Linked DNA regions of Homo sapiens: all the other regions are linked to region 1. The links come from fine-mapping of genetic effects on gene expression. A gene starts in region 1. Each other region holds a variant in brackets. All regions are shown on one strand. Distances are between the middles of the regions.

Region 1 (10,397 bases):
CAAATATGACCTTACCAAATGAGGGAGAGATATTAAAGTGATAGGAGTGATCAATCAACTTAGATGGGACTCTCCCTGGAATGAAGTCACCAGTTGTCTCTGAGTTCAGCGGACACGTGATATTCACTCACATCGCAGGCATTCCGGTGGTGAGGGGATCGCGCACCAGCTGTGTTTATCTCGGCAAAGGCTTGAGAGCCTACTACGCCATGGTAAAGCCCCAAACCGTAGCTTGAGAGGGCTGCATCTCAAAAGCGGTTTCGTCTGTCTGTGCATTCAGACAATCATCCCCCTTGCTGCCCTGAAACTGATTTGCAAGTGGGCCATCTCTGTTACCCCTTCCATGGGGACCGCTCCACAACCGAATGACAACCCTGGAACCAAAACCAAAAACAGCCACCCAAGTTGGCATCCAGGGCTCAGCCTTACCCTGCCTTGATTCCAGAAGGAAAATACATAGAAAATGAAAAAAGTTCAAAGCTGGGTCACATACATGCTTGGGAAAAGTGGAGGAAAATCTTTGATTTATATAAGCAGGAAAATGAGGTTTAAAAGAAGTGATTTTGAAAGGGTTACGAAAAACACAGCTGTTGGTGCACTCCTATAGCAAAGGCGCTCTGCAGAAAGAAAGAAGGGGGGAGCTGTGTGACATCTATATTAACCTTTGGCTGCTCACCAGTGAGGGCCGGCGCTCCGAGTGCTGGAATGTGGAGCAGCCCCTTCCAAATTTTAACACAAGCCAGGTTACAGCTGCAAATGCCTGCAGTCCACGCTCCCCTTTGCGAAGCACTCCCTGAAGGAAATTTTTAAACTGTAACAGAATCTTTTTCTAATACTCTACAGTGGTAGGGCCTGCTCTTGACGGGCAGTGGGAGAGGTCTTAATGCCAAACACTTGTCAACAAAAAGGACAGCCAGATGGCATAAAGCAAAAATCAAACTGCACGGCCTTCTCCCTACTCTTCAGCTACATTAACAAAAGCCACTTTTATAGGCTGACTCCAATAATGATAGGTTTCCAACTTTCTCTTCTTTTCCTTCAAAGATTACACAAATTTCATGCCTTCATTACCTGGACCAGAGATAAACATGATGACTTCCACTCCCCTAGTGCCAGCCGGCTACTTTACAAGATTCCTAACAGAGCTGCTGGATCTTCCCAGAGAAAGAATGGTAACGGGCTATGGCTAGATGCAGTGTGCGGAGTCGCCATTGCCTGGGGATTATTTAAGAGAGGGTAGCTGTTTTGAATTCCAAAATTAAGTCTACAAAGAGGAGTCGGGGTTGTTAATCCAAACCAGTTTACAAATCTTGCCATTGAACTTAAGGGGCCCAGGCTGGGAAGATGGGAGTCTCACTCAGGCAGCTCAGTTCACATTGCCTGGGGCTTTATGGTACAGGCTGGGCTTTGTCATAAGGTGCGGCCTTTAGTCCTCATTCCCACCACCTGGTTTTGTCGTAAATTCCCCTCTAGTTTCCCCTCTAGTTTAGATCCCGCTCAGCCTGGCAAAAAACTTGAATTCCAAGAACGACTTATAGGAACAAAAACCAGTTTGGCGGCAGACAGAAGGAAGAATAAATGCACCAGGTCTGCAAAAGCCTTCAGAATTCAGGCAAGGGTCCCCCCTCCCGCGCACGCAGGCCGCCTGCCTGCAAGACAGCAGAGCTCTGCAGTGCAGGGCGAAGGGGCAGCAGAGGCTGCCAAGATCCTCACCCATGCCCCCCCCGCCAAACTCCCACCATAATAAGAAGTAATAGTTTGATATGTGCAAGTGATATTTTCTCACTCTTATGTAAATTGTGAGAATAAACTTGCCTTTAGAAAACTTCGAATACTACAGATCAACATGATTTGCAATCCAAGGAAAAACACTATAGCAGTACTTTCTCAGCAAACTCAGTGGCCAGACAAGTCTCCTACACCTCCCCCCAACCCTCTCCAACCCTACTGCCACCCCCAAGTCCCTCCTATGGAGAAATTCCAAGCTACAACAGGATAGAAGGGACAGGCCATTTATTTGTGTGCTGCTGCTTAGCAGAAATTAAAGGCCAACATTAGAAGCATCTACAGGAAGTGTCTCGCCAAACTGCAGCCCAGGTCTTCACCTAACTAATGACCTCGAGTTTAGGGACAGAGAGAGAAAGAAAACAAGGTCAGTGCGCTCTGTTAAAAGCCACTCTGCCATCTAATTTGGAGTGATGTCCCAGAAAGCTAGACCTGAGAAAGTCAGGGTCCCACAAAGCCCAAAGCCAGCCTGACTGATTAAGAGGCTCAGACAAGCCGGTCTTTGTCCTTTCAAGATGAAAGAAATGGATTGAAAGGTGTATGTACAGCCAGAGGAGGAAAACCACCCAGCTGTGGCCTTCCCAAACAAGTCCCAGCTTGCTCCTGCCGCCATGGGGGGAGCAAATAGCCCGCACCAAAGTTCCCAGAGGCACCCTCCGAGCAACCTGGTCTTTCTCTTGGGGACAGGGAGCCCCGGGGCCTAGCCCACACTGCCGGCCCATAAGCACTGGGGGCTTTTTTGCTCTTGGTTTGCAGGGCCTTCTGCAGAAGCCAGAGATTACAAATACCTTTTTAATGATTCCAGCCAGGCTCTGAAGGCAGCCACTGGGACCTGCACATTCAGTGGGAGTCCGGGGTACCCAACAGAAGGGAAGATGCTATAAATCCCCCACCAGAGAAAGGGCCCTGGCTAACCCCAGGCTTCAGGAGGGCGACAGAGCTCTGCGTTCATTATTTATATGTATGTATTTGGAATTTTCCTTTAGTTTTTGGTATAGTTAATAAATACACATTGTTTTAAAAAAATCACAAATACAGAAGTGCAGACGACGAAAAATCAGACCCCACCTCCCACTCCGTAAGCCCCAGCTATGCCCCCGCCTCTCTACCCCTCCAGTAAAATCTCTCTCCAGTTCCTGGTGTCTTCCTCCAGGAGGACACGATGATATACAAGCACACATGCAGCCCACTCATCTGCACCTTGCTTCTTTCCACCTCATACATCTTGGAGATGGTTCTAAATCAGGTCATATGTTGCTGCTTCCTTCTTAACTGGCTGCTTAGTATAATTTAAACTTTTTTGAAGGTATTTTGGCATCTAAACCTCCCACCCCTTGCTCGCTGAAGCTTGGTTCACTAGTTGGATTTAGTTATTATTAAGTACAGACAATGGCCTCCCGGGAACTCCAGGGACCTTATCAGGAGGGGGAAGCATGAAGGCGGATCTGCGCTTCCCCCGCGCCCCCAGTCCACGCCCCAGGTGCCCAGCGTGGGGCTTCAGTATCATTATTTCCATGTTGACACAGCGCCCGTGGGCGTGAGTTTGCTGTCTTGACTTGGTTCGGGTTTTCGCAGCAAGTTACACAAGTAGAATGAAAGCGGCTCAGGAAACAGCGCTATCGGGGTGTGTTATCTCGGAAACCAAATATTTGATCATCAGTCCCGCAGCGCGCTGGCGCTGCCGGGGGGTTAGTTTGAGCAAGTCTGGAGAATGTGCGCGCACATATGGAGGGGGAGCTCCCCGGCCCTCGCTGCAGCCCCAGGCTCGCGTCGCCGGGGTCGTCGCGGCTCCAGTCGGAAACCGGGACCCCCAGCCGCCCCCGCGGCGTCAGCTCTGAGATCCCGCGCAACCCAATCGCCAAAACCTGTGGTTTGCGCGCCACACGTGGTAAATGCTGAAAATAGATTCTGCCGGCCCGGGACCTACCACTAAATACTTAAAATAGAAGACTAGCGGCAGGGCACAGTGGCTCACGCCTGTAATCCCAGCACCACTTTGGGAGGCTGAGGCGGGAGGATCACCTGAGATCGGGAGTTCGAGACCAGCCTGCCTAACATGGAGAAACCCTGTCTCTACTAAAAATACAAAATTAGCCAGGCATGGTGGCGCATGCCTGTAATCCCAGCTACTCGGGAGGCTGAGGCACGAGAATCGCTTGAACCCGGGAGGCAGAGGTTGCGGTGAGCAGAGATCGCGCCATTGCACTCCAGACTGGGCGACAAGAGTGAAACTCCGTCTCAAAAAAAAAAAAAAAGAAAAGAAAAGAAAAAAAAAGAAAAAAGAAAAAAATAAACAAAGAAAGAAAACAAAGAAAATTAGCAATGGCACCGTTTCTTCCCCAGCTCCAGCCAAGAGAGAATGGGGCATCCGGCGGCCCGGAGAGGGGCCCCAAGGCGCTCGGAGCGCGCGGTACGCTAAGGCGGGCGCACCACGAGGGGACAGGTAGGGCTTGACAGGGAGGGTAAGGGGGTGCGACGGCCGCGATGCCAGAGCCAGGCAGGGCTGAGAGGGGCCCAGGAAGGGCGGCAAGGCAGCCTCGCCGGGAAGGGCCCTTTACATCCAGGTAGCGCGAGCCGCGCCGGCCCGGGACAGCTCACATGACCGAGCCCCGCGCTTTGAACGGCCCTTGCCTCCAGCCCCAGAGATGCGGCCGGCGGCGTAACATGGAGGGGACTTCGGAGGATCCCTCCTTCCCAGTAACCCCTACAGGCTCACCGAACCCAGCGCGCCCGACCTGGGGGCGCACACAGCTTGGGAGTCATAGGGCTGTGGGTGGGAGACCCTCGGGCAGGCACTGCGATTTCAGCCAGGAGCGGAAAGCTGGGCGGGCTGCATAGAAGAAGCGGCTCCCTCCCTCCCAGTCTCAAAGTGCCCCCGAAAGGAGACGCGTACCCTCGCCTGCCCTTACTCACCGAGGTTGACGAAGCTCATGACCATGTCGGCGTCGGTGAGGAAATGGCTATCTTGCAGGCTGGCCAGAGGGGGGCCCTGGGTACTGAAGACGGCCTTGTAGGGGTAGGAGAAGCCCTGGCCGCCGGGCCCGCCGCCCTCCTCCACCGCCATGGCGTTGTACAGGTCCAGCATGAACATGGGTGCCGAGTTGTGCTTGCCCTGGAGGTGCGGGCGCGGGCGGTGGGGCAAGCCCAAAATGGAGAGGATCTCGCGCTGCATCTCCCGCCGCTCCTGGCTGCGGAGGCGCCGGTGGATGAAGCTCGAGTGCACCTCGTTGTCCAGGCTGAAGTCGGCCAGGGCGGAGCGCAGCAGGAACAGGGGTGCCCAGAGCGCCACGAAGCTGTGCGGCGCCGCAGCTCGCAGTGAGCGCACGTGCATCGCGCCGGCTCTACGCGCTACCCGGGCTCCGGGCTCCGGGCCCGCACCGCCCCAGGTGGCAGAGGGGGCAGGCGGCCGTCCGCGCCGCTCGGTCACTTGCTGCAGACGGGCCCCGCTGCGCCCGCGCCAGACATGGCCCCTCCCCGGCCGGCCGCGCTCTGCCCGGACCCCCGCCCCCTGCTCGGTGCTGGCCCCGGGCCCCTCGCCCCGCACTCGCCCGGGCGCACCGCAGGGCTTGGAAAGCAGCCCCGGCGAACGAAAAGGCGAGTGAGGAGGCGGGCGCGGGTGGGAGGAGCAGCCAGCAAGCCTAGGAGTCCAGAGAGCCAACGCCGGGGAGGCAGCGAGGAGGCAGGCGGGCGGGCGAGCGCTCCTTCTTCCCGCTCCTCTGGCGCTCTCGCCCTCGGGCGGCGGCAACCCACCCTCTTCCAACCTCCGGCGCGGATAGCAGGGGCCCCGGGGCGCTCTCCCAGCCTTGTGCGCCCTGGATCGCACAAGAGGCCGCCTCGGGAGCGCCAGAGTGGTACGCGCTGGGGCCTGGGCGGAGGAGGAGGAGGAGGAGGACGGGCTTCGAGGGGCCCCTCCCGCGCCGGCGGCCTCCCACCTGCCCTCGGCCCCGCCCTCCCCCCAGCTGTGCCCAGTGGGTTCATTCATTCCCTCTAGAGCGCTCGACAAATGTTTACTGAGTGCCCACGGGGTGCCTAGAGCCTGGCGGGACGTCGCGGGGATGCGGCTGGAGGAATCGGAGCCGGCCCTGCCCTCTCGGCACTCGCGGTCCGGACCAGGAAGGCGGCCCGAGCAGGACGGGTGGGCTGCGGACCGCGGTGGGAAAAGTTGGGGGAGCGCGGAGGTGGCGCGGAAATAGAAGGCTTCCTGGAAGCGGTGACCCTTGAGCCGGTCTTGCCCCTCAGTCCCTGTATCCTTTTAAGCCAGCCACGCTGACCCCTCCGCGCCTCCCTGAAGCCGTTGCCAGCCTGTCTCTGCGCTCGCCATTCCCTCCGCCTGGACCTCTCCCCACTCACCACCTCCCGCCCCCATCAGACGCTGCTTTCTCCTCCCAGAGACCTCCAAGACCTGCCAAGCTGAGGTTGTTTCCTCGCCTCGCCCCTCGCACGTTTGTTTTCTTTCCTGTAGTTTCTCTTGCTGTCTGGAATTGCTGTTTGAGTTACTCCGTGCCTTCTTTATTGCCTTCTTACCCCCGCTAGACACCCAGAGCACTGGGGCCCGGATCAGCGATCTTCTCCGCACCTCTGGTACCCGCAGTGCCTTGAACCCAGCGCCTGGTAGCCACTGTAGCTGCGCAGTCACGATTTGTTGAGTGAATAAGTGAACTGCGTGTGAGCTGGGGGGGTTCTTCCCACCTCCTCCTCTTCGGGGCCCTGTATCTTTCCAGCCACCCCTCAGCCTGAGACCAGACACCCCAGCCCCACCACTAGGGCTTCCCATCAGCCCTCCTCGTGGCAGTGCCTGGGGAGCCAGCCGCTGGTCTTCACATCCTCTTCCCCTCCAAGGGTCTGTGCCTGAGACCTCCCCATCGGCCTCCTCTCCTGTCTCTCCTCATCCATTCATCCCTCAATCAATACCGAGCCATGCACGCTGTCACAGGGAGTCCCCAGACCACTCAGAACCCACCGGTCCCTCTGCCGGTGTGGGATCTCAAGGGAATTACTGCACCCAGAGTGGCAGTGAGGGCAGCGGGGTAAAAGTTCATCCTGTCTCCTTCCCCTCCTGGGGCTGGGTGAGAGAGTGGGTCCCCAGAGGGCCTTTGGGATGAACTGGGAAGGGCTGAGGTTGGGGAAGCGGGGGCGCTTGTCTGGGAGGGGCTCTGGCTAAGCCTCACTTTGGGGCTGTCCTTCCTGGAGCAGGAGAGCTGGGGAAGAGAATTATGGTCTTCTACAGTTTTCTGGAGCAGAAGTAGTTTGGCCAAGTGGCCCTCTGGGTCTCCCTTGGGGACTTTTGGACTAGATGGCAGCCTGAGGGGCCACATGGGTGGAGAAAGGGGAGGCCAGAGGCCAGGCAAGGAGCAGAAAAATGCCAGCCTGCAGGTCCTGGCCATTTACACACAGGCCCCAGGCTGTGGGATGGAACAGGTCTTGAGCCCCATGCCAGGGAGGGGCCTCTACCCACCCACCAGGCAAGGCCCTCAAACCACCCCCACCACCTGCTCTTCATCCATTCACTCCTTCCTTCAACAGACAAGCATGGAGCACAGGATATCAGGAGGCGAGCTGTGGGGCCTGCAACCTGGACAGTCGTACAGGGCCCCCCAGCTCTTAAGGGCCCCACACTTGGTTTCCTACTCTGAGGTCACCATATGTGGTTCTGAATCACCTATGAACAAAGTACCCCCTGCCCCGTACTAATTTTGCACCTGGCCCAGATATTATGTGGCCAGTCCCAGGGCCAAGCACCATGCTGGGCAGGAAGACATGGCCATGAGCGAACCCACATGGCAGACTCCATCAAGGAGCCGGCCTCCAGGCCAGGGAAGCAAAGCAAGAGCCTTAAATAAGATTCAGGGACTGAAGGAGAGGCAGATCTTGTCTATCACTCTCTCTGGAAACAATTCAGAAGCCAGGCAGAGGAGGACATGCAGGAGGGAGAAGGAAAGGTGGGCATCCTGGCAAGCAGGAATCCTACCCCAGGGAGACTGGGGAAATTGCAGGAGTGCCACAGTCGTCCAGGGTCCATCTGAGAGTGTACAACTGGAGAGCCTGGGTCACTTCAGCCTGCAATAAGTGACAGGCAGTGGGGGCGGGGGCGCAGATAAACAGGGTGAGGTGATGGAGGGTGGGAAGGGGAGTTTTTGGAGGAGATGCCACTGACCTGAGTCCTGAAAGACAAGAAAGAGACAGGCTTTTCCAGGGAAAGGCATCCCAGGTGGAGGAACAGCAAGTGCTTGAGCCCTGCAGAGCAGGGAACAGAAACCAGGCTCGGTCCCCAGCCCTGCACACGCCCTCCAGCGCTGGCTTGCTAGGGACAGGCTATGCCACCTCCAGTGCCAGTAGAGAAAAAGGAGGTCATTTTCTTCCAAAGTCTGAAATAATAAGGAGCCAAAGCAGCCCTGTTCTTCAGTAGTAGTCTCTGCTTTTTATCTACTCTCAAATCTTTTGGAGGGATCTTCACAAGCAGGTGAGGCTGGGGGCAGGGGCAGCAGGTCTTGGTGCTACAATTTACATATGAAACAACTGATCCGTCAGTGTCTAAGCAAGGATTCTAGTTTACCCTTCTTTGTGCATCTCACCTGAGCCTATTCTGAGCCTGGCACACAGCAGGTGCTCAATTAGTACCTGTTGAATGAATAGTAATAAGCACAGCCAAAACCTAAAGAGACCGGTTGACTGAGGGCTGACTGTGCAGGCGCCAAGCTAAGGCATCTCCCAGATCCCTCACCCCAGCAACCCTTCCTCTGAGACGCCATCTTTTCTCATGCAAGAGGAAGAGACAACATGCTCTTCATATCCAAGACCTCAAGAGATAAGGTTTCCTCTGAAGTCCCACAAACCCCCATTTAGCCTTATCTTTTCTGTGATCCATGCTTGGTGGGGGGGTCTTTCTTTTCCCTGTTTCCTCCCCGAGAGGCATCCCCAAGACTGCACCAGGCCCTCAGTGAATGCCGAATGAATGAATGAATGAATGAATGAATGAATGAATGAAAACCGGCAAGCAAGAAATATCTGGCTGGGAGTGCATCCGATGCCAGTTTGGGAGCTGAGCCCACCACCAGAAAAGGCTTTGAGATTGCCGAGGGCAAGTCTTGTGTGGAGGAGGTAGCCTGGGCACTGGAGCCTGCCCAGCCGCATTCACACTCCAGCTCTGTCTCTTCCAGCTGTGCACCATGGGCAAGGGACTTAACCTCTCTACACCTCAGTTCCCCCATCTGTAAAATGGGGTGACTGATAGCGCCTGTCTTCTGGGATCGCTGTGAGGTTGCAGAACTTAATTCATGGAAAGGGCTTTGCACAGTGCCTGGAACACAGAGAAAACCCTTGATAAATGTTATTGTGTTACCATCTGGATGAAAAGGAAAATATGGTAACAGGAAAGCCTCCTGAGTTACAAAATAACAACAAAACTTTTCATGATGGTCTGCTTTTTGGCCAAGCAGAGAAAAGCAGATGTATCCTGACTCTGAGAGCAAGAGCAAAAGTACCAGAGCAAAAGAGAGAGTGAAGTGGAAGGGAACATGAGAGATGAAAAGGTCATCACTGCATTCCAATCCTCACATTGTGCCTAGGCCCCCTGCAGGCCAGCTGGGGCCCAGGGACTTCCCTGGGTCCTATCTCATTTCCCCAGCAGCTAGCCCCCAACCCACACACCCCCAGTTGTGGTTCCCCTGGCCAGGGCACCCAGCACTGGGCTCCAGGACCGTAATCTGATCTGCCCCAGTCTGCTCCACACCTGGGGCCGCCTTTGCCTGGATGAAAGACGGCCTGGAATTGTAAGGGGTGTTATTGTGTCGGGTGGCCCGGTCCCAGTGTCCGCGCCCCTCGCCTGCTGGCCTCCCAGTGCTGGGCCAGGAGTTTTCATTTCCTACATCATCAGTCACATCTTGCTGAAGTGATTTTGACCAAGTCAGCATGTCTCTCTAAGGCAGTAAAAAGAAGAAAAGAATTCTGCTGACACACACATTGTTCAGCGAGGTGGGGACCTCATCTTCATCCATCTGCCCTAGAGGAGGCTCAGCTGGCCTGGAAGCTCCCTGGGGAGCACAGCCAAGGAAGCCAGTGGGCTGCTCTCTCTCTGTCCACACCACCTGGCAAAGGCCAGATGACCTGGACCTCCAACCCCAACAAGGAATAGAGGGCCAAGAGCTGCCTCCTGCACAGGCTTGAAAATCGTTGTGTGCAGAGGTGGACCCTGCAGAGGAAATTATTAGAGCACACCTGTGGTGAAATTTTGTTTCCCACGCAGATCTCTCATTGCACGGGAGGCTTGGACTCCTCACGCTTGCCCACTCTGAGATTTTCTTTGCACAACTTTAAAAGCAGCAGAATAAGAGATTAAACGTCTTCCATCAGTCTTAAGTACACATGGCAGTGGCCACAGTTCCAAATGGAAAATACAGACGACACACACACTCTAGAGAAAGCTGATACCATGCAGGATTTCTAGGATCTGGAAGCCAGCTAGGGGGAAGCAGTGGTTTTGTTTATTATTATCAGGGCTGTTATTTCTTCCTTGATTGGAGGAAATCTGGTATGGTTTTGAGCACTAACTATCCTCGGTTCAGCACTAGAGGTAGCCCTTTCCTCCTTCCAAAACGTGACAGGGGAGCGGCCGA
Region 2 (10,397 bases), 340 kb after region 1:
GGGGGCAGAGAGGAGTCACACAAATGGGGGGATCAAAGATTCACCTCCAGGATCTCCCAGCCACGCAGTTCACCCCCCACACCCCTGACCTGCAGGTGGAGCTGGGAGGGCCAGGCCTGTCTCGAGCTCTGTAGCCAGGGGCGCCAGACCCCCTCCCCCCTTTCCCCACCCCCGGCCCCCCAGCTGACACTCCCGCCTTCAGGGCTTTGCCGGCACTGGCCCTGCTGGATTGCTTCTCCAGCAGCTGGGGGCATTCAGCTGATTGTGGCAAAGGCCACTGTGCCCCGGGGTGGGCGTGGGGGGCAGGTCAATGAGACACAGTGGGGGAGCTGACCAGCCAGGGGCTGGGAGGTGACAGCCAGGCCGCGGTGATATGTCCCAGGCAGCTTTTTCAGTAACATGTTTAAGAGCACTGGCTTGCAAGCCTGCCTGATGGCTGGGTTTGAATCCTATCTCTGTCCTTGGGCAGTAGTTTCACCTCCCTGAGTGGGTTTGAATCCTATCTCTGTCCTTGAGCAGTAGTTTCACCTCCCTGAATGGGCTGCCTTGGAATCATGCAGCGGGGGCTGCATCATGCTGCGTATCCACAACTGTCCAAGGAACCCTTGTTTCACAGGAGCTCTTGCAGAAGAGGGTTTTCATGGAATGCAAAATCCTGGTCCTGCTGGCCCCTCCCCATCTGAGGTGATGTGGCTGCCCGTGGGTGGGTGCCAGTCTGCTGTCATCCGTGGGAGCTAGCAGCCTGGCAGATGGGAGTGTTAAATCCTCCGTGATGGGTTGACCACCAGGACTGGAAAAATCTGGTTTTCAATCTGGAATTTTGAACATGGGTCTCACTTGTCAGCCATGTGGCTTTGGGCAAGCCACTTACCCTCCCTTGGCCCCAGTCTCCTCATGTACTTAAGGGGAGGATTAAAGAATGCTTAGAAAATGCCCTTGTCACAGAAGGTCCACACCATTCTAAGCACCCCCAAATTCAGGGGTGAGCCTGGATTGGCTACAGCTAATGACTCTCATCCCCATGCCCAATTGGAGGTGGCAAATACTGGGGTGGTTTAGAAATTGCTTTTGTCCCCTGTGGGAATGTGAGGTCTGGAACCACTGCAGCCATTTTGTCCCCAGCAGGGCAGAACTCTTAGTGGCTGGAAAGTCTCCGTGTGGAGCCTGAAAAAGCTGAGTCTGTGGGAAGCCATGAAGAGAGATGGAGGGACAGTGGGTCCTGAACCACATTGTTTGAGCTGCTGGATGAGGCCTTACCTGAACACTGCTAGTTTGTGAGTCAATAAGCACGCTAAAAAAAAAACAACAAAAAAACCTGCTTTTTGTTTTGATTCAAAAGTACAAATAGATCTGCAACATCCCACCTACAATATTGAACAGATGCCTAAACATACAGTCGTCCCCCAGTATCCCCAGGGGATTGGCTCCAGGACTCCCTGTGGGTACAAAATCCATGGATACTCAAGTCCCTGATATGAGATGATATAGTATTTGCATATAACCTATGCACATCCTCCTGTATACTTTAAATCATCTCTAGATTACTTATAATACCTAAAACAATGTGAATGCTATGTAAATAGTTGTTATACTGTATCATTTAGGGAATAATGACAAAAAAGTCCACACGTGTTTAGTACAGATGCAGTCATCTTGTTTTTCAGATATTTTCGATCCTCAGAACCCACACATACATAACCGACTGTATTTTTAAAAATCTTATTGGTTTCATTTTTCCCACTTGAAAATTTTTTCCCACATTCACTCAGCCTTCCATTCCAGGCCAGACCCAGTGGCTTCATAGGTTTTCTGTGCAGTATCAGGCTTCAGATTCTCACAACTCCCCATGCAGGGTTTTGTTTTGTTTTTTTTTTTTTTTTTGAGCCTTCGGTGGCTGGGGCCCTGTGGAGAGAGACTCATCAGAGAGCAGAGAGCTGGAGAGAAAGAAGCCTGAAAGGAAGGCTTGAGCCTCTGGATCCAACCATTCCTGAACATGAGTGTCCCTTGATTCCCCAGTTGCATGAGCAAATACATTCACCATTGTGCCTGAGCCTGGGGAGCTAGGCTTCGGCCATTCAAAGCCAAAATGCCCGTGAGTCCCTCTGTAGACTCTTCTTCCTGCTCTAAGCATCCAATTTTGGTTGCCTGGTAAAATCTCACAAGTGAGGAGTCCTGTCTGGGGTCACCCAGAGAGGAGGAGAGCAGCTGGAATGAGAACATAAAATTGCATCTGTGAGCAGGTTGGTGGTTTCAGAAAATCATTTCCAACTCCTGGAGCAAATTCCTCCTCCCTGCATCGAGTTCTGGGGGCTACAAGCTCCGTTTGCACACACCATGGCAGAAGGGAGGGGTGGGTGGGCGGGCTAGACACAGCGCGGGCTGAGGGGTGGATGGACTTAATCATTCTCTGCTTTTAATGGTATCTAGTTAATTTCCTTCCCAAGGAGACTAACATTGACCTTCACCTCTGGCCCCCATTAACTGCTAGCAATGCTTTGTCAGCGTATTTATGACAAATTAATTACACAGGGAAAATCTTGCTGGGAAAATGAGTATTCTGATTCAGCCTGGGGGTGGAAGCTGCATTTTGATTCCTCATTGACAGGGGGCCTGGTTATCCACAAAGTTTGGCCAAACTTGGAGGCAAGCAACTGATTTGCAGCTCCATGCAGCAGGAAGACACGCCCAGAAAGATAGACAAACCCCATTCTCATCCCCTCCTGCCTAGTGACTCATGTTTGCAAACTGGGTACTCTATGAGAAAATACTCTGGGGATCCCAGATCAGCATGGTGGTTGAGATAACTTTGCCTACAGTATGGCTGAGCAGCTCCAGTCCATGGGACAAGACACCCTATCCCCCAGAGTCAATCCAATGGCTGTACCGACCTTGTTGCCTAGGTCTGCCCAGTCCTCCCTGTGGGCTGGCTTGTACAGCAGTGTCTGGTCCAAACTCCCAAGCGGCCATGGTCTGGTCCCCACCTGCCTCCGCAGCCAGCCTCCCTCCACTCTTCTTTGTGCTGGGCTCTCCGGCAATACCCAAACCACGGTGGTTCTCTGAATAACTCAGCTGGTTCTGATCTTCATGGCTTTACTCCAGCTGTGGCCTGCCTAGAGCACCATTTCCACCCTACGCAGCCTCCTCCCTCTGCCTGGTCTTGAAAAATGTGCTCTTGAGAGTTCCCTCCTCCTCCAGGAAGCCTTCTGGACCCCTCTAGGCTGTGTCTGGGCCCCTGTCCCACACTCCCATGATTCCCTGTGATGGTTCCTGCTCTGAACTCCCTGCCTGTGTACGTTCCCCTCCTGACTCACTGTGAGCCACTATCAATGACAGGGCTTTGTCTCCCACTCTCAGTAGCCCAAGGGCCCAGCACAGGAGTTAGCCTGCAGGATGTGGTCAGTGAAGGGCCTTGTCCAGCATACATTGGACCCTGGAGGTATAAGAGTTGAAAGCCAGGGCCCCTGAGTCCAGTAAATTCCTCATTCAAAGCTGGGGAGTGTAGCGGACTTCTGAGGTTCTAGCCTGTCCAGCATCCCTTTCCTGGTAAATTTAGAAAACAGCTGATCCATCACCCTTAGGCCATGTGACTGGGGGTGGCTGCTCCCCATCCTGGTTCCAGAGATAAGCTATGTGATACCAGTTGGCCAATCACCGCATTCTATTGCTCTGGCCAATGACTGGTGGGGAATGGGCATACAAATAAAGCCATCTGTTGTGGCTTTTGCTGTCGGGAAAGTCATCCCTCTCCACTGGGTAGCTAAGCTAGTGGTGTGGGGGCCTGGAGCTGCTGGGGGCTATCATTGAAAACAGAGGAAAGCAGTAGGGGGGTGGAGCGAGGCTGAGTTCTAAGAGATCACCTGAGCTCCTGGATCTAGACATTCCTGAAGCAGGCTCTATGCCTGGGCTTGTCTATTAGAAGATCCAGTGCATCCCCTTTTGTGCTGAAGCAGGTCTCAGCTTTCTATCATCTACGACCAAATGAGTCTCGATGGACGAGAGCTAGACTAATGACAAGGCAATGTTGGGGCAATGAAGTGTGGGTTTGATATGGGGAGCAGAGGAGGCTTCAGAAGCAGACAGGAGGCATCCAGCTAGCCTGGGAGCTCTGAAATCTCTCGGTAAGGTCATGCCTCAGGTTGAGTAGCAGTGAGCTAAGGGGAGTGGGTAGGGGAGGTGAGGGGGCAGCTGCCCTTCAGAAATGGAAATCCCAGTGGAGCTGGCTTCAGCACTAAGGGGACATCTCAGTTCTTCTAATGGGTAAGTGCTAGGATAGGTTCTGCTTCAGGAATGACTGGATCAAGGAGCTCAAACAATGTCTTACGAATCCCCTTTAAGGGATGAACTGTAAGTTCTATATATCAGTCTAGGTTCTGACCAATATGTCAAAGCATCCACCCTAAAGATCCTCCCAGTCGAGTTGGGCAAGGAGATATGAATTTGTTCAATAACTGTTTTTACTGAGGCCCTGTGATGAGCCAGCCCCTCCCCGCCAAGGTAGACATTAGCCCCAGGGGCATCAGCTTTTGGGTGTCAGATGCCAAGGCCAGTGAAGGAGACAGAGTGGAGTGTGACAAACGCCCACCTGAGGACTGGGTGTGGCATTGGAGTTGGGGGCAGCAGAGTGCCTGTGTGTGTGCATGTGTGTGTGTACACCTGTGTGTGCATGTGTGTGTGCCTATGTGCACACTGAAGGACGGACACAGTCCTTGTTCCACAATCACCCTGCCCAGCTGATCACCACCTCCCTCTATCCCTCTCCATCTTCCTCCCACCATGCCCCACCAAATCCCTCCACTACCCACCCCACCCCATGGTTCAAGAAATGTTGCAGAGCCCATAGCCCTTCTACGGGAACTTAGCCCCTAGCGGGGTGGTGGGGTCTGGTAAATAACAAGCTGACATGGTTTTGCTGTGTCCCCACCCAAATCTCATCTTGAATTGTAGCTCCCATAATTCCCATGTGTTGTGGGAGAGACTCAGCAGGAGATAATTGAATCATGGGGATGGTTCCCCCATACTGTTCTCCTGGTAGTGAAGTAAGTCTTATGAGATCTGATGGCTCCATAAGGGAAGCCACTTTCCCTTGGCTCTCATTCTCTCTCTTGCCTGCTGCCATGTAAGACGTGCCTTTCGCCTTCCACCGTGATTGTGAGGCCTCCCCAGCCACGTGGAAGTGTGAGTCCGTTAAACTTCTTTTTGCCTATAAATTACCCCGTCTTGGGTATATCTTTATCGGCAGCGTGAAAATGGGCTAATCCACAAGCACTCCCTGCTGATTGGCCAGAAGAGGTCACCTGACCCATGGGTCAGCCAATGACTTCCACCAGGGCCTGGGGACCCAGGGTCGGGGTGGGAAAGAATTTTCTCTTTGGGAGTCCAGCTAAAAGATCCTGAGAGATCAAGGCTGAGGAGAGAAGATTCTAGAAAGGTCGGGTGATAAGGAGGTCAGGTGGCCACAATGGGCCTTGAGGAAGTGAGACCTCAGGTGAGGAGAGAGTGGGGCAGTGTTTCAGTTGGCTCAGGCTGCTATAA[A/T]AAAATGCCTCACCCTGGGTAATTTATAAGCAACAGGAATTTATTGCTTACAGTTTCGGGGTCTGGGAAGGCCAAGATCAAGGTGCCAGCAGAGTCAGTGTCTGATGAGGGGTTGGTCTCGGCTTTAAGGATGGCACTTTGTTACTGCATCCTCACATGGCGGACAGGCAAGCGGGACTAACAGGCTCCCTCAAGCCCTTTCATGGCAGCGCTAATCCCACAATCCCACTCGCCCTCCTGACTCCATCCCCTCCAAAAGGCCCCATCTCTTCATACCACTGCACTGGGGATTATGGTTGGTTTATTTTTTATTTATGTATTTATTTTTTTGAGACGGAGTCTCGCTCTGTCGCCCAGCCTGGAGTGCAGTGGCGCGATCTCGGCTCACTGGAAGCTCCACCTCCCGGGTTCACACCATTCTCCTCCCTCAGCCTCCGGAGTAGCTGGGACTCCAGGTGCCCGCCACAACGCCCGGCTAATTTTTTGTATTTTTTTTTTTAGTAGAGACGGGGTTTCACCATGTTAGCCAGGACGGTCTGGATTTCCTGACCTATTGATCCGCCCGCCTCGGCCTCCCAAAGTGCTGGGATTACAGGCGTGAGCCACTGCACCCAGTTGGGATTATGTTTTGATATGAATTTTGTTGGGACTCAAACATTCAAACCACAGCAGGTAGCCATGATGGAAGGTAACTCCAGGCAGATGCCCCGAGCCCAGGAAAGAGTGGAGAGAGTCCCCTGGGCCTGGGGGACCGAGCCCCACTCCCATCTACCCACCTCCTCTTGGCACACCAAAGGTTCCCCAAGGCAACTCCCTGTCATCTACTCCTGGCCATCAAAAGACCTGGCCTGAACCCATCCCCATGCCAGGTCCATTCCCCCAAAACTGATTCATGCAGGTTATGTCTGGAAGCAAGCAGGTCAAACAAGACGCTAAGGAATGCAGAGAGCAGCAGGCTAGTCTCCCTAGCATGCGCCCACCCCCAGCCTGTGTCCAAGCCCCACGTGAGGCTGTGCACTAAATCCCACCTCCCCACCAGCTCCCCTCGTGTGAGGCTTCATCCACATAGTGGCTGCCTTCTGCAGCTTTGTGACTCCTGTTTCCAAGAGTCATAGTTTCCAGCTTGGGGGTGAGCTTCGAGTGGCTGGGAGTGATGGGCTGACCAATGTCTCGAGGAAAGTGACTTCTGGATTGTGTGTCTGCGGGACGACGACCTAGGGAAGAGAAGATGGGGGATCAGCTTCATGGGCACGTGGCCTGGGCATTTCCACAGGGACCCGCTCTTGGAAGGATTTCGAGCTCAGCTTGAGCCTTTGTTGTTACTGTCTTTAGATTTGTACAAAGTCTTGAACAGGGAGCCCCACCTTTTCACTTTGCACTGGGCCCCCAGATCATGTAGCCAGTCCTGTCCTAGTTTCACAGCAGTGAGATGGAGGAGCAGAAATAACACCAGAAAGCCCCCATCCCAGGGCTCTCCCAGTCCTCCCAGGGACCCCAAAAGACGGCTCTACATGCTCTGGCACTGACAGTCTCTGATTAGCAATTTCCTCAAACAAAACAAAACAAAACAAAACAAAACAAAACAAAAACCATTCCAGGCCTTACACATCTCAGGATAAGGTCCCGCCCGCCACTCAAGGAGGAAGTGACAGGCAGACCTCATTTTATCTCACTTTACCTTATTGTACTTTGGTTTATTACACTTCATAGATATTGCACTCATTTTTCACAAGTTGAAGGTTTGTGGCACCCTGTGTGAAGCGAGTCTATCAGTGCCAATTTTTCCAGCAGCATATGCTCACTTCCTGTCTCTGCGTCACATTTTGGTAATCCTCACAATATTTCACACTTTTTCATTTTGATTATATGTGTTATGGTGATCTGTGACCAGTGATCTTTGATGTTGCTATTATAATTGCTTTGCTTTGGGGTGCCACAAATATCACCTGTAGAAGATGACGAAGTTAATTAATAAATCTGTGTGCTCTAACCTGTCACTGATCAGCCATCTCCTCCTCTCTCTCCCTCTCCTCAGGCCTCCCTATTCCTTGAAGACACAACAATATTGAAATTAGGAAAATTCATAACCCTACAATGGGCCGGGCGCCGTGGGTCACACCTAGAATCCCAACACTTTGGGAGGCTGAGGTGGGCAGATCACCTGAGGTTGGGAGTTCAAGACCAGCCTGACCTACATGGAGAAACCCCATCTCTACTAAAAATACAAAGTTAGCCAGGCGTGGTGGTGCAGGTCTGTAATCACAGCGACCCAGGAGGCTGAAGCAAAAGAATCCCTTGAACCTGGGAGGTGGAGGTTGCAGTGAGCCAAGATTGTGCCATTGCACTCCAGCCTAGACAACGAGAGCAAAACTCCATCTCAAAAATAAATAAATAAATAAATAAATAACCCCAAACGGCCTCTATGTGCTAAAGTGAAAGGAAGAGTTGCACGTCTCTCACTTTAAATCAAAAGTGAGAAATGATTAAGCTTGGTGAGGGAGGCATGTCCAAAGCTAAGACAAGTTGAAAGCTAGGTCAAAAGTTAGCCAAATTGTGAAGGCAAAGGAAAGGGTCTTGAAGGATATTAAAAGTCTTACTTCAGCAAACACATGAGTGATGAGAAAGTGAACCAGCCTTGTGGCTAGTGTGGAGAAAGTTTTAGTGGTCTGGATAGAGGATCGAGCCAGCTACAACAATCTCTTAAACCTAAGCCTCGTCTAGGGCAAGGCCCTTGCTCTATTCAATTCTAAAGGCTGAGAGAGGTGAGGAAGCTGCAGAAGAATAGTTGGAAGTGAGCAGAGGTTGGTTCATGAGGTTTAAGGAAAGAAACCGTCCCCATAACATGCAAGTGTGAGGTGAAGCAGCAAGTGCTGATGGAGAAGCTGCAGCAGGTTACCCGGAAGCTCTAGCTAAGATCATTGATGAGCGTGACTACACAACAGAGCAGGTTCTTAATGTAGATGAAACAGCCTTCTATTGAAAAAAGATGTCATCTAGAACTTTCATAACTCGAAAGGAGATGTCAATGCCTGGCTTCAAAGCTTCAAAGGGGACAGGCTCTCTTGTTGGAGATTAATGTAGCTGGTGACTTTCAGCTGAAGCCTCTCCTCAATTACCATTTTGGAAATTCTAGGGCCCTTAAGAATGATGCTAAATCGACTCTGCCTATGTTCTATGAATGAAGCAACAAAGCTAGATGAGAGCACCTGTATATAGCTTGGTTTACTGAATATTTTAAGCCTAGCATTGAGACTTACTGCTTAGAAAACAAAATATTCCTTTGAACATTTCACTGCTCATCGTCCATACCACAGGATCTGAGTGTTCCGCATCCTGGATTGAGGGCCAAAAAAAAATTTTTTTTTTACTACTCGTTGACAATGCACCTGTTCATCCACGGGCTCTGATGGAGATGTAAAAAAGAATTAACATTGTTTTCATGCCTGCTAGCACAGCATCCATTCTGCAGCCCATGGATTAAGGAGTAACTTCAACATTCACTTCTTATTCTTCAATAAATATATTTTATGAGGGCATAAGTGCAACACAGAGTGATTCCTCAGATGGATCTGGGCAAAGTAAGTTGAAAATCTTCTGGAAAAGATCACCAATCTACATGCCGTTAAGAACATTTGTGATTCATGGGAGGAGGTCAAACTATCAACATTCACAGGAGTCTGGAAGAAGTTGATTCCAAATTTCATGAATGACTTTGAGGGGTTCAAGACTTCAGTGAAGGCAGCAACTGCAAATGTGGTGGAAATAGCAGGAAAACACAAATTAGAAGTGGAATATGAAGATGGGACTGAATTGCTGCAATCTCATGAGAAAGCTTGAACAGATGAGTTGCTTCTTATGGATGAGCAAAGAAAGTGGTTTCTTGAGATGGCATCTATTCCTGGTGAAGATACTGCGAACATTCTTGAAATGACAACAAAGGATTTAGACTGCTATATAAACCTAGTTGGTAAAGCAGCAGCAGGGTTGGGGAGTCTTGGTTCCAATTTTGAAAGAAGTTCTAGTATGAGTAAAATGCCATCAAACAGCATTGCATGCTACAGAGAAAGCTTTCATGAAAGGAAGAGTTCATTGCTGCAGCGAACTTCATTGTTGCCTTATTTTAAGAAATTGCCACAGCTGCCTCCACCTTCAGCAACCACCACCCTGATCAGTCAGCAGCCATCAACATCAAGGCAAGACCTCCACCAGCATAGAGATGATGACTGGCAGAAGACAGGTGATGGTTAGCATTTTTAGCAATAAAGTATTTTAAAATTAAGGTATGTACATTGTTTTTTAGATATAACGTGATTCAGTGCACACCTAATAGACTAGAGCATCGTGTGAATATAACTTGTATATGCACTGGGAAATCAAAAATTTGCATGACTTGCTTTATTGGGGTGTTCTGGAACTCACCCATAATATCTCTGAGCTATGCCTATTGATGTCTCTTGGGGACAAAGAGAGGTGGGTGGGTCAGGGCAAGGGGCAAAGATGTCATCAGCTCTTCTGCTAGAACCTTAGGGAAGAATGTCAGGATGTTGCAGGGCAAATCTGGGAGTGTGACCATTTTTTTTTTTTGAGACAGAGTCTTGCTCTGTCGCCCAGGCTGGAGTGCAGTGGCATGATCTTGGCTCACTGCAAGCTCCGCCTCCCAGGTTTACGCCATTCTCCTGCCTCAGCCTCCTGAGTAGCTGGGACTACATGTGCCCGCCACCATGCCTGGCTAATTTTTTGTATTTTTTAGTAGAGAGAGGGTTTCACCGTGTTAGCCAGGATGGTCTCGATCTCCTGACCTCGTGATCCACCTGCCTCGGCCTCCCAAAGTGCTGGGATTACAGGCATGAGCCACTACACCCAGA
Region 3 (10,397 bases), 710 kb before region 1:
TCCATCTTAAACAGGAGCTGGGTAAAATGAGGCTGAAACCTACTGGGCTGCATTCCCAGATGGTGAAGGCATTCTAAGTCACAGGATGAGATAGGAGGTCAGCACAAAATACAGGTCATAAAGACCTTGCTGATAAAACAGGTTGCAGTAAAGGAGCCAGCCAAAACCCACCAAAACCAAAATAGCAAAAAGAGTGACCTCTGGTCATCCTCACTGCTACACTCCCACCAGCACCATGACAGTTTACAAATGCCATGGCAACGTCAGGAAGTTACCCTATAGGGTCTAAAAGGGGGAGGCATGAATAATCCACCCCTTGTTTAGCATATCATCAAGAAATAACCATGAAAATGCACAACCAGCAGCCCTCGGGCCTGCTCTGTCTATGGAGTAGCCATTCTTTATTCCTTTACTTTCCTAATAAATTTGCTTTCACTTTACTCTATGGACTCACCCTGAATTCTTTCTTGCACGAGATCCAAGAACCCTCTCTGGGGGTCTGGATCAGGACCCCTTTCCTGTAACACTTGGACTCTGGACCCAGCGGGCTCTGACAATCTGGGAGTGGCGGGCAACAAGCCTTCCTTCCCAGAAAGGGCACACGTGCAGTCAGGTAGGGCTGTGTACCACTCTGAAATGGACCAGAAGGTCTGTGGAGGCCATTGGCAGAAAACTAGCCTGTGCAGGGTGCCCTTCAGGGGGTCCTCAGGCTCTGATCATGTTTGAGCTACTTAACAGTTCTGTAGGCTGGGCGCAGTGGCTCATGTCTGTAATCCCAGCACTTTGGGAGGCGGAGGTGGGCAGATAACCTGAGGTCAGAAGTTTAAGACCAGCCTGGCCAACATGGTGAAACCCCATCTCTACTAAAAATACAAAAACTAGCCAGGTGTGGTGGCAGGCACCTGCAATCCTAACCACTCAGGAGGCTGAGGCAGGAGAATCACTTGAATCAGGGAGGTGGAGGTTGCAGTGAACTTAGATCACGCCACTGCCCTCTGGCCTGGGTGACAGAGTGAGACTTTATCTCAAAAATAAAAAAGAAAAGAAAAAAAGGGAACAGAAACTGTGTGACTTGGACAGTGGGCACAACTTTGGGTTCCCCACCCTGCCCATTCAGCCTGGTCTCAGCCCACCTACCTTGCCAGACATCCATTTGTTCTCTAAATATTAACTGACTCCCATGAGCCAAGCAGGCTCTCAGCACTGAGCATGCAGAGGTAATAGAATCCTATGAGTTGTCAGCCTCTTAGAGGCTGTTAGACAACGGGGAGCAGACAACAGCAATGACACGGGAATATACAATAGCATGTCAGGAGAAGATCAGCCTAGAAAGAAGGATGCACCAGGAGGAGGGGCTCCTGGGCTTCATGGTCAGGGAAGACCTTTAAGAGGACACTTTGGAACAGAGCATGCACAGAAAGTACAAAGGTCCTGAGCCCCGCTCCTGCCTACCAAGGGTACACGCTGCCCTTAATTACACATTCATTACCATTGCGACTGGGTTTCTGACTCACAGCATTAAAGGAGAAGCTTCGGGAGGGCACAACCCACCACCATCGGGTCTCCACTGCCAAGCCTAGGCAATGCCTGGCTCACAGTAAATGCTTAACAAATGAGTTATTATAATAATACAAAAATATAAACATGAGTTATTATCATAACTCATTTATTATATAATATTATATATTAGTTTTATATATTACATAACTAATACAACAAATATAACTAATAATTTCACAATGTGACCTTGAAACATTAACCAAATTTTTTTGTTTTTGTTTTTGAGACAGGGTCTCGATCTCTCACCCAGGCTGGGGTACAATGATGTGGTCTTGGCTCACTGCAGCCTTGATCTCCTGGGCTCAAGCGATCCTCCAACTTCAGCCCCCTGAGTAGCTGGGACTACAGGTGCATACCACCACGCTGGGCTAATTTTTAAATTTTTTGTAGAGACGGGTCTCACTTTGTTGCATAGGCTGGTCTCAAACTCCTGAACTCAAGCAATCCTCCTGCCTTGGCCTCCCAAACTGCTAGGATTACAGGCATAAGCCACTGCACCTGGCCACTCAATACATAAACTAAGATATTAATTTGCATAAGCCAACCTTACTATATTAGCCCTTATCTTCCATTAGTTCTCCCATTTCCTGGTCACTTTCCTACAGTTTATCATTGCTTGAAACCCAAACCTTATTTCCTTTGTTAAAATGCTATATAAGGTCAGGCACAGTGGTTCACGCCTGTAATCCCAGCACTTTGGGAGCCCAAGGGGGATCATCTGAGGTCAGGAGTTTGAGACCAGCCTGGCCAACATGGTGAAACCCTATCTCTACTAAAAATACAAAAATTAGCCGGGCGTGTTGGCGGTGCCTGTAGTCCCAGCTACTCCGGAGGCTGAGGCAGGAGAATGGCTTGAGCATGGGAGGCAGAGGTTGCAGTGAGCTGAGATCACACCACTGCACTGTAGCCTGGGCAACAGAGCAAGACTCTGTGTCAAAAATAAAAGTTATATAAGCCTGAATCTAACCATTTCTTTGAGTTTTACTTCTTTTCTATAAATTCTCATGCATGTAAATATTAACAAAAATTATATGCTTTTTCTCCTGTTAATCTGTCTTTTGTTACTTTAATTTGCAGATCCCAGGTACCGAACTGAAGATGGTAGAGGAAAAGTTTTTCCTGCTTAACATATTCAACTCTCTACCCTCAATATATTTGGCTGTTATTATTCTGGTTTACATGTATCATAATTTAACCAGTTCCCTACTGGTGGATGTCTAGGTTTCCCCGATGTTTTGCTATTAAAAACACACATGGTACACGTTTTTCTAGATCGGGCAGGGTTTGCCCATCTCCACTTCAAGCAGCACAACCACCATCTGCCAGTGTTGGGGTTTACTCTACAGTCAGCAAACACTGTTGGCACATCCAGTCAGAGAAACTGAAAACAGAAAGCAGAAATGGCTTACACTGGACTAATTTTAGAATTTCTAAGTACATTTAAGTGATGACTCATCCCACTTAAATTCAAAGCTGTTTGTTGTGCCATCTGGCTCATCAGAACATGAAAGACTTCTCCTGCAACCTGGAAAAAGGCCAGAGAGGAAGACGAATGGAGGAGTCAACCCCATGGGAATGCTGACTGAGTGTTAGCTCCCCGTGGACAGGAATGTCACTGCATGAATAGGCTGCAGTATGTCTGGGCCTGTTTTTTTTTCATAAAATGTTCCCCCCCTGTTTTTTTCTTATTCCAAAGCAATGCAACAAAAAGCACAAGAAATCAAAAAGGAAAAAATAGATATTGGACTTCATCAAAATGAAAAACTTTTGTGCTTCAAAGGAAATGGAAAGAAAGTGAAAAAACAACTGAGGGAATGGAAGAAAATATTCTCAAATCATCATCTAACAAAGGTTGTGTTAGTCTGTTCAGGTTGCTGTAACAAAATATCATTTCAGGTCACCAGGTGGCTTAAACAACAGATTCAGTTGGCCCTCCGTATCCATGGGTTTCAGGCCTTCGACTTCAACCAACCTCAAATAAAAAATATTTTTAAAACCCAATACGGCCGAGTGCGGTGCCTCATGCCTGTAATCATAGCACTTTGGGAGGCCGAGGCGGGGGGATCACTTGAGGTCAGGAGTTCAAGACCATCCTGGCCAATACATAGTGAAACCCTGTCTCTCCTAAAAATACAAAAATTAGCTGGGCATGGTGGCGGGTGCCTGTAATCCCAGCTACTTGGGAGGCTGAGGCAGGAGAATCGCTGGAACCCCGGAGGCAGAGGTTGCAGTGAGCCGAGATCGCACCATTGCACTCCAGCCTAGGAGACAGAGCCTTCTGTCTCTAAAAAAAAAAAAAGAAAGAAAAAGCCAGTACAGCAATAAAAAATAATAAAAATCTTAAAACAATGTAGCATATTGTTTTAAACTATTTAAACTACAATTACTTACATAGCATTTACATTTATAAGTAATCTAGAGATCATTTAAAGTACACAGGAGGATATGTGTAAGTTATGCGCAAATACTACACAATTTTATATCAGGGACCTGATCATCTTTGTTTTTTTTGTTTTGTTTTTTGTTTTTTGAGACTGAGTCTTGCTCTGTCACCCAGGCTGGAGTGCAGTGGCATGATCTCAGTTTACTGCAACCTCCACCTCCTGGGCTCAAGCAATCCTCCTGCCTCAGCCTCCCGAGTAGCTGGAACTACAGGCATGCGCCACCATGCCTGGCTAATTTTTGTAGTTTTAGTAGAGAAGCGGTTTCACCATGTTGGCCAAGCTGGTCTTGAACTCCTGGCCTAACGTGATTCGCCTGTCTTGGCCTCCCAAAGTGCTGGGATTACAGGCGTGAACCACTGTGTCAGACAGAGTAGACTCCGTCTTAAAGAAAAAAAAGTTTTGGTGCCATTCCATGCAACGTGGAGAGAAATGTCGCATTCAGGAGGGAAGGCTCCCAGACACTTAACTCTCCACTCCAGGCCAGCTTTCTGGAGGCACCAGGGCTTTGTCAACGCATAGATGAGGAGTCAGCCATTGAGTGTGACAGTGTGAGGCAGTGGAGAAGGCATAGAAGCTGGAAGCTGGAAGTCCTGCCTTCCTAAACCACAGCTGCTTCTTACCAGCTGTGTTACCTTAAGTAGGTCCCTTAACCTCTCTGAATCTCATCGCAAAGTGCTTTTCGAATAGAGCAGGATCATTGAGAGGATTCAGTGAAGTATTTACTCTTGAAACCCTTAGCATGGAGCCTGGCAAGTACCAGGTGCTTAGGAACAATCCTTCATTATCACACCAAAAAAGGTGCTGTGGACACCCAAGGAAACAAAATCCCTTCGATAAAGAATTTTAAAATTTTAGTCTTATGAACCGTGCTATGTATTCTCCTGCCTTTTTGACAGAATAGACTGAACATCCTTTAACCTTTTTTGATGGTGCAAGATCATCTCTTATAAGACAAAAATTCAGGCCAGGCATGGTGGCTCATGCCTGTAATCCCAGCACTTTGGGAGGCTGAGGTGGGTGGATGGCTTCAGTCCAGGAGTTCGAGACTAGCCTGGGCAACATAAGTGAGACCCTGTCTCTACAAAAAATACAAAACTTAGCCAGATGTTTTGGTGTGCACCTGTGGTCCCAGCTACTCAAGAGGCTGATGTGGAAAGATGGTTTGAGCTCGGGAGGCAGAGGTTGCAGTGAGCCAAGATTTTGCCACTGCACTCCAGCCTGGTGACAGAGCAAGACTCCATCTCAAAAAAAGAAAGGCAAAAATTCCCTCAGAGTGCAAAGCTTGCCAGTATTTAGAAATCCAACATTAGTCTTCATTCAGCAACCAGTCATTCATTTGCCAAACATGAACTTTCCCTAGAACTCCATACTTCTTTGGACGTGTGAGACA[C/T]TGCCAGAATAATTATTCAAGCACTGTGTGGGCCAGGTGCGGTGGCTTACGCCTGTAATCCCAGCACTTTGAGAAGCCGAGGCAAGACGATTGCTTGAGCTCAGGAGCTCGAGACCAGCCTGGCAACATGGTGAAAGCCTGTCTCTATTTAAAAAAAAAATTAGCCGAGTGTGATGGTGCCCTCTTGGAGTCCCAGCTACTCAGGAGGCTAAGGCGGGAAGATCATTTAAGCCCAGGAGATGGAGGCTGCAGTGAGCTGTGATCTACCACTGCATTCCAGCCTGGGTGACAGAGCAAGACCCTGTCTAAAAAAAAAAAAAAGAAAAAAAAGAAAAGAAAAGAATGAGTGGGAGGGCGAGGCGCGGTGGCTCACGCCTGTAATCCCAGCACTTTGGGAGTGGGAGGTGGGTGGATTACCTGAGGTCGGGAGTTCGAGCTCAGCCTGGCTAACATGGTGAAACCCCGTCTCTACTAAATACACAAAATTAGCTGGGCGTGGTGGCACACGCCTGTAATCCCAGCTACTCCGGAGGCTGAGGCAGGAGAATCGCTTGAACCCAGGAGGCGGAGGTTGCAGTGAGCCGGGATTGTGCCACTGCACTCCAACCTGGGCGACAGTGAGACTCCGTCTCAAAAAAAAAATGAAGTACTGGTACCTGCAACAGACACAAAAGCCACATATTATATGATTCCCTGTGTGTGAAATGTCCAGAAGAGGCAAATCCATAGAGCTGACAAGTAGAATGGTGATTACCAAGAGCTTAGGAGAGGAAGGGCTAATGGCCTTGAGGTTCTTTTTAAGGTGATGAGCATGTTTATTTGGAGACAGAGTCTCGTTGTGTTGCCCAGGCTGGAGTGCAGTGGTGTGTTCACAGCTCACTGCAGCCTCAACCTCCTAGGCTCAAGTGCTCCTGCCATCTCAGCCTCCCGAGCAGCTTGGACCACAGGGCTGAACCATCACCCCCAGCTAATTTTTTCTGTTTTTTGTAAAGGCAAGGTCTCACAAAATCCCAACATGCTGGGATTACAGGCGTGAGCCACCATGCCTGGCCCCTACTCATTCTTTTTTTTTTTTAAGATGGAGTCTTGCTGTGTCACCCAGGCTGGAGTGCAGTGGCACAATCTTGGCTCACTGCAACCTCCACCTCCTGAGTTCAAGCAATTCTCCCTGCCTCAGCCTCCCGAGTACCTGGGATTACAGGCGCCTGCCACCACGCCCAGCTAATTTTTGTATTTTTAGTAGAGATGGCGTTTCACCATGTTGGCCAGGTTGGTCTCGAAATCCTGACCTCAGGTGATCCACCCACCTTGGCCTCCCAAAGTGCTGGGATTACAGGCATGAGCCACCGCGCCCAGCCGCCCCTACTCATTCTTAATCACACCACCTGACTTTCTCCACATTGATCACATTAGGATATTATCTTGTTTATTTACAGAAAATCTGTGTCCCTCTTCAGTGCACTGGACTCTTCGGTGCACTGGATGCTCAATGCAGGCACTAAGTTTTGTCTGACTTACCACTGGTTGTATGCCCTGCTCACAGCTGGTGAATGAGTGATTGGAAACACACCTGCTCCCTTGATTTAGGCCTCTGGGAAACAAGGGCAAGGTAAGTTCAGGAAGAAGAAAGACCTCGTAATTTCCAGGTAGGAAAAATCCTTTGGTGTGGCCGTGAGACACTGCATTCTTCTTGGCCACAGCTCCCTCTGCTTTGAGAATCACATAATCAACTTTATCTTTCTCTGAATCGTTCACATAAAAGGGAGGTGTTGGAACACAAGGTGGAAATGGGTGTGTTGGCGGTGGCTGAGGAAGTCGGGGCAGGAGGAGCCACTGTTTCTGGGAATGAATTCCTGAAACTTGCTGGTCCCACCAAGATGCAAATCTTGCGGCAGTTTTTACAGTTATCCTGTGGAAGAAGTGAGGATCCCACTCCAAGCCCAGGTCAGAATGCTGATAATCCCCTCTGATCAGGTTTTTTTAATTTTATTTTTATTTTTTGTGGTTTGGGGAAGATTTGCCAACTGTATCCTCTTTTCTGGCAAGGAAAATTTATATCTGCCCAATGAAATCAGGAATTTAACTTCATTCATTCAACAGTTATTTAATTCTATCCTCTACTAGATTCCTACAGCTGCTGTAACCCTAAAGTACCACAAACTGGGTGGCTTGAAACAACAGACACGTAGCCAGGCGCAGTGGCTCACGCCTGTAATCCCAGCACTTTGGGAGGCTGAGGTGGGCAGATCATCTGAGGTCAGGAGTTCAAGACCAGCCTGGCCAAAACGGTGAAACCCTGTCTCTGCTAAAAATACAAAAAAAATTAGCCGGGCATGGTGGTGGCGCACGGCTGCCATTCCAGCTACTCGGAATGCTGAGGCAGGAGAACCGCTTGAACCTGTGAGGCGGAGGTTGCAGTGAGAGCGAGACTCTATCTCAAAAAAACAAAACAAAAAACCCCAACAACAACAGACATGTATCCTCTCACGGTTCTGGAGGCCAGAAGTCTCAAATCAAACGATTAGCAGGGCCATGTTCTCCCTCCACAGGCTCTTGGGGAGAATGTTTCTCTGCCTTTCTCTTCGCTGCTGGTGTTGCTGGCAGCTCTTGGCACTTTTTGGGTGTAGGCTCATCACTCCAGCACCTGCCCTGGGGTCACATGGCTCTCTCCTCACTGTGCCTCTTCTTTTTTTATTTTTGAGACAGGGTCTCATTCTGTGGCCCAGGCTGGAGTGCAGTGGCACAGTCTCAGCTCACTGCAACCTCCTCCTCCCCAGGCTCAAGTGATCCTCCTACGTCAGCCTCCCAAGAAGCTGGGACTTCAGGCTCATGCCACCAAGCCCGGCTAATGTTTTGTATTTTTAGTAGAGAGAGCAGTTTACCATGTTGCCTAGGCTAGTCTCGAATACCTGAGTTCAAGTGATCTACTTGTCTCAGCCTCCCACAGTGCTGAGATTACAGGTGTGAGCCACTGGGCCGGGCCCTCCTCTTTTTTTAAAAAAACAAAACAAAACAAAAACATTTATTTTAAGTTCAGGGGTACATGTGCAGCTTTGTTATACAGGTAAACTTGTGTCACGGGGGTTTGTTTTACAGATTATTAATTTCATCACCCAGGTATTAAGCTAGTATCCATTAGTTATTTTTTCTTTTTTGTTTTTTTTTTTTTTTTGAGACAGAGTTTCACTCTTGTTGCCCAGGCTGGAGTGCAATGGTGCCATCTCGGATCACTGCAACCTCCGCCTCCCGGGTTCAAGTGATTCTCCTGTCTCAGCCTCCCGAGTAGCTGGGATTACAGGCATGAGCCACCGTGGCCAGCCTAGTTATTTTTTCTGATCGTCTCCTTCCTCCCACCCTCCACCCTTGGCCAGACCCCAATGTGTGTTGTTCCCCTCTATGTGTCCATGTGTTCTCATCATTTAGCTCCCATTTGTGAGAATATGCAGTATTTGGTTTTCTGTTCCTGCATTAGTTTGCTAAGGATAATGACTTCTAGCTCCATCCATGTCCCTGCAAAGGACATGATATCATTCCTTTTTATGGCTGCATGGTATTCCATGGTCTATATGTAGCACATTTTCTTTATCCAGTCTATCACTGATGGGCATTGAGGTTGATTCCATGTCTTTGCTATTGCGAATAGTGCTGCAGTCCTTTTCTTCTAAGGATACCGGTCATATTAGATTATGGGTCCACTCTCATCCAGTATAACCTCATCTTAAATGATATCTTAATTATATCTTCAAAGAAGTAAGGTCACACTCACAGGTACTGGGGTTAGGACTTCAACATAGGTTTTTTGGGGGAAACTATTCAATGCCTAACACAACCTCTCCAAGAAAAAAATCTTACTGAAATTTTAATTGGAATTGTATTCAATTTATATCATAATTGGGGGATTTTGACTTTTGTGTTTTTTTTTTTTTTTTTTTTTTGAGACAGAGTCTCGCTCTGTCGCCCAGGCTGGAGTGCAGTGGCACGATCTCAGCTCACTACAACCTCTGCCTCCTGGGTTCATGCCATTCTCCTGCCTCAGCCTCCCATGTAGCTGGGATTACAGGTGCCCGCCACCATGCCTGGCTAATTTTTGTATTTTTAGCAGAGACGGGGTTTCACCATGTTGGTCAGGCTGGTCTCAAACTCCTGACCTCAGGTGAACTGCACGCCTCAGCCTTCCAAAGTGCTGGGATTACATGCGTGAGCCACCATGCCCGGCAACTTTTTCTTTTTCTTTTTCTTTTTCTTTTTTTTTCTTTTTTTTTTTTTGAGATGGCGTCTTGCTCTGTCACCCAGACTGGAGGGTAGTGGCGCCATCTCAGCTCACTGCAACATCTGCCCCCCCGGGTTCAAGCGATTCTCCTGCCTCAGCCTCCAAGTAGCTGGGATTATAGGCACCCGCCACCATGCCTGGCTAATTTTTGTATTTTTAGTAGAGATGGGGTTTTGCCATGTTGGCCAGGCTGATCTCGAACTCCTGACCTCAGGTGATTCACCCACTCCGCCTCCCAAAGTGCTAGGATTACAGGCATGAGCCATTGCGCCCAGCCAAATTTATTTCTAAGTGTTTCATAGTTTTTGTCTGCATGCTGAATGAAAATGTTTCTTATTTAAATTTCTAGGTGTTTATTGCTACAGTGTGAGAAAACTATTGTGTGGTTTTTTTTGTTTGTTTTTTGTTTTTTTTTAAGATGGAGTCTTGCTCTATCGCCCAGGCTGGAGGGCAGTGGCTTGTTCTGGGCTCACTGCAACCTCCGCCTCCTGGGTTCAAGTGATTCTCCTGCTTCAGCCTCACTAGTAGCTGGGATTACAGGTACCCACCACCAGGCCTGTCTAATTTTTGTATTTTTCGTAGAGATGGGGTTTTGCTATGTTGGCCAGGCTGGTCTGGAATTCCTGACCTCAGGCGATCCACCCACCTCCGCCTCCCAAAGTGCTGGCATTACAGAAGTGAGCCACCACGCCCAGCCTTGTTTGATGTATATTTATCCTGAGACTAGCCATCT

Which allele goes with the higher level. Alleles are on the strand shown, and positions count from the first base shown. SD is a standard deviation of normalised expression in the study named. Not every link is listed here.
For the expression in sigmoid colon of the gene that starts at base 5,635 in region 1, C is the low allele of the variant in region 3 and T is the other (small effect, 0.38 SD a copy in GTEx).

Evidence for each region. PIP is the estimated chance that this variant, and not a neighbour inherited with it, causes the effect.
Region 2: its variant is fine-mapped to the expression of BMP7 in spinal cord (GTEx, PIP above 0.99).
Region 3: its variant is fine-mapped to the expression of BMP7 in sigmoid colon (GTEx, PIP 0.94).

The regions. Positions count from the first base shown.
Region 1 is chr20:57,261,007-57,271,403 of GRCh38, forward strand. It overlaps BMP7 (bone morphogenetic protein 7), which reads right to left and starts at 5,635. Exons shown (of 7, transcript NM_001719.3): 1 at 4,699-5,635. The coding sequence starts at 5,116. It overlaps LOC112268270 (translation initiation factor IF-2-like), which reads left to right and starts at 5,434. Exons shown (of 2, transcript NR_171651.1): 1 at 5,434-5,636; 2 at 5,777-6,281. RefSeq lists enhancers at 1,864-2,580, 3,299-4,014, a promoter at 5,123-8,484 and a cis regulatory region at 5,742-5,834.
Region 2 is chr20:57,598,024-57,608,420 of GRCh38, forward strand. ZBP1 (Z-DNA binding protein 1) reads right to left here. Exons shown (of 8, transcript NM_030776.3): 8 at 5,829-6,746. The coding sequence ends at 6,550. Among named protein-coding and RNA genes, the nearest start is that of ZBP1, 17 kb to the right of the region's middle. The variant A/T (reference allele first, on the strand shown) is at 5,533.
Region 3 is chr20:56,552,051-56,562,447 of GRCh38, forward strand. LOC124904971 (a long non-coding RNA gene) reads left to right here and starts at 1,868. Exons shown (of 2, transcript XR_007067758.1): 1 at 1,868-1,908; 2 at 2,638-3,561. RefSeq lists an enhancer at 2,786-2,835. The variant C/T (reference allele first, on the strand shown) is at 5,395.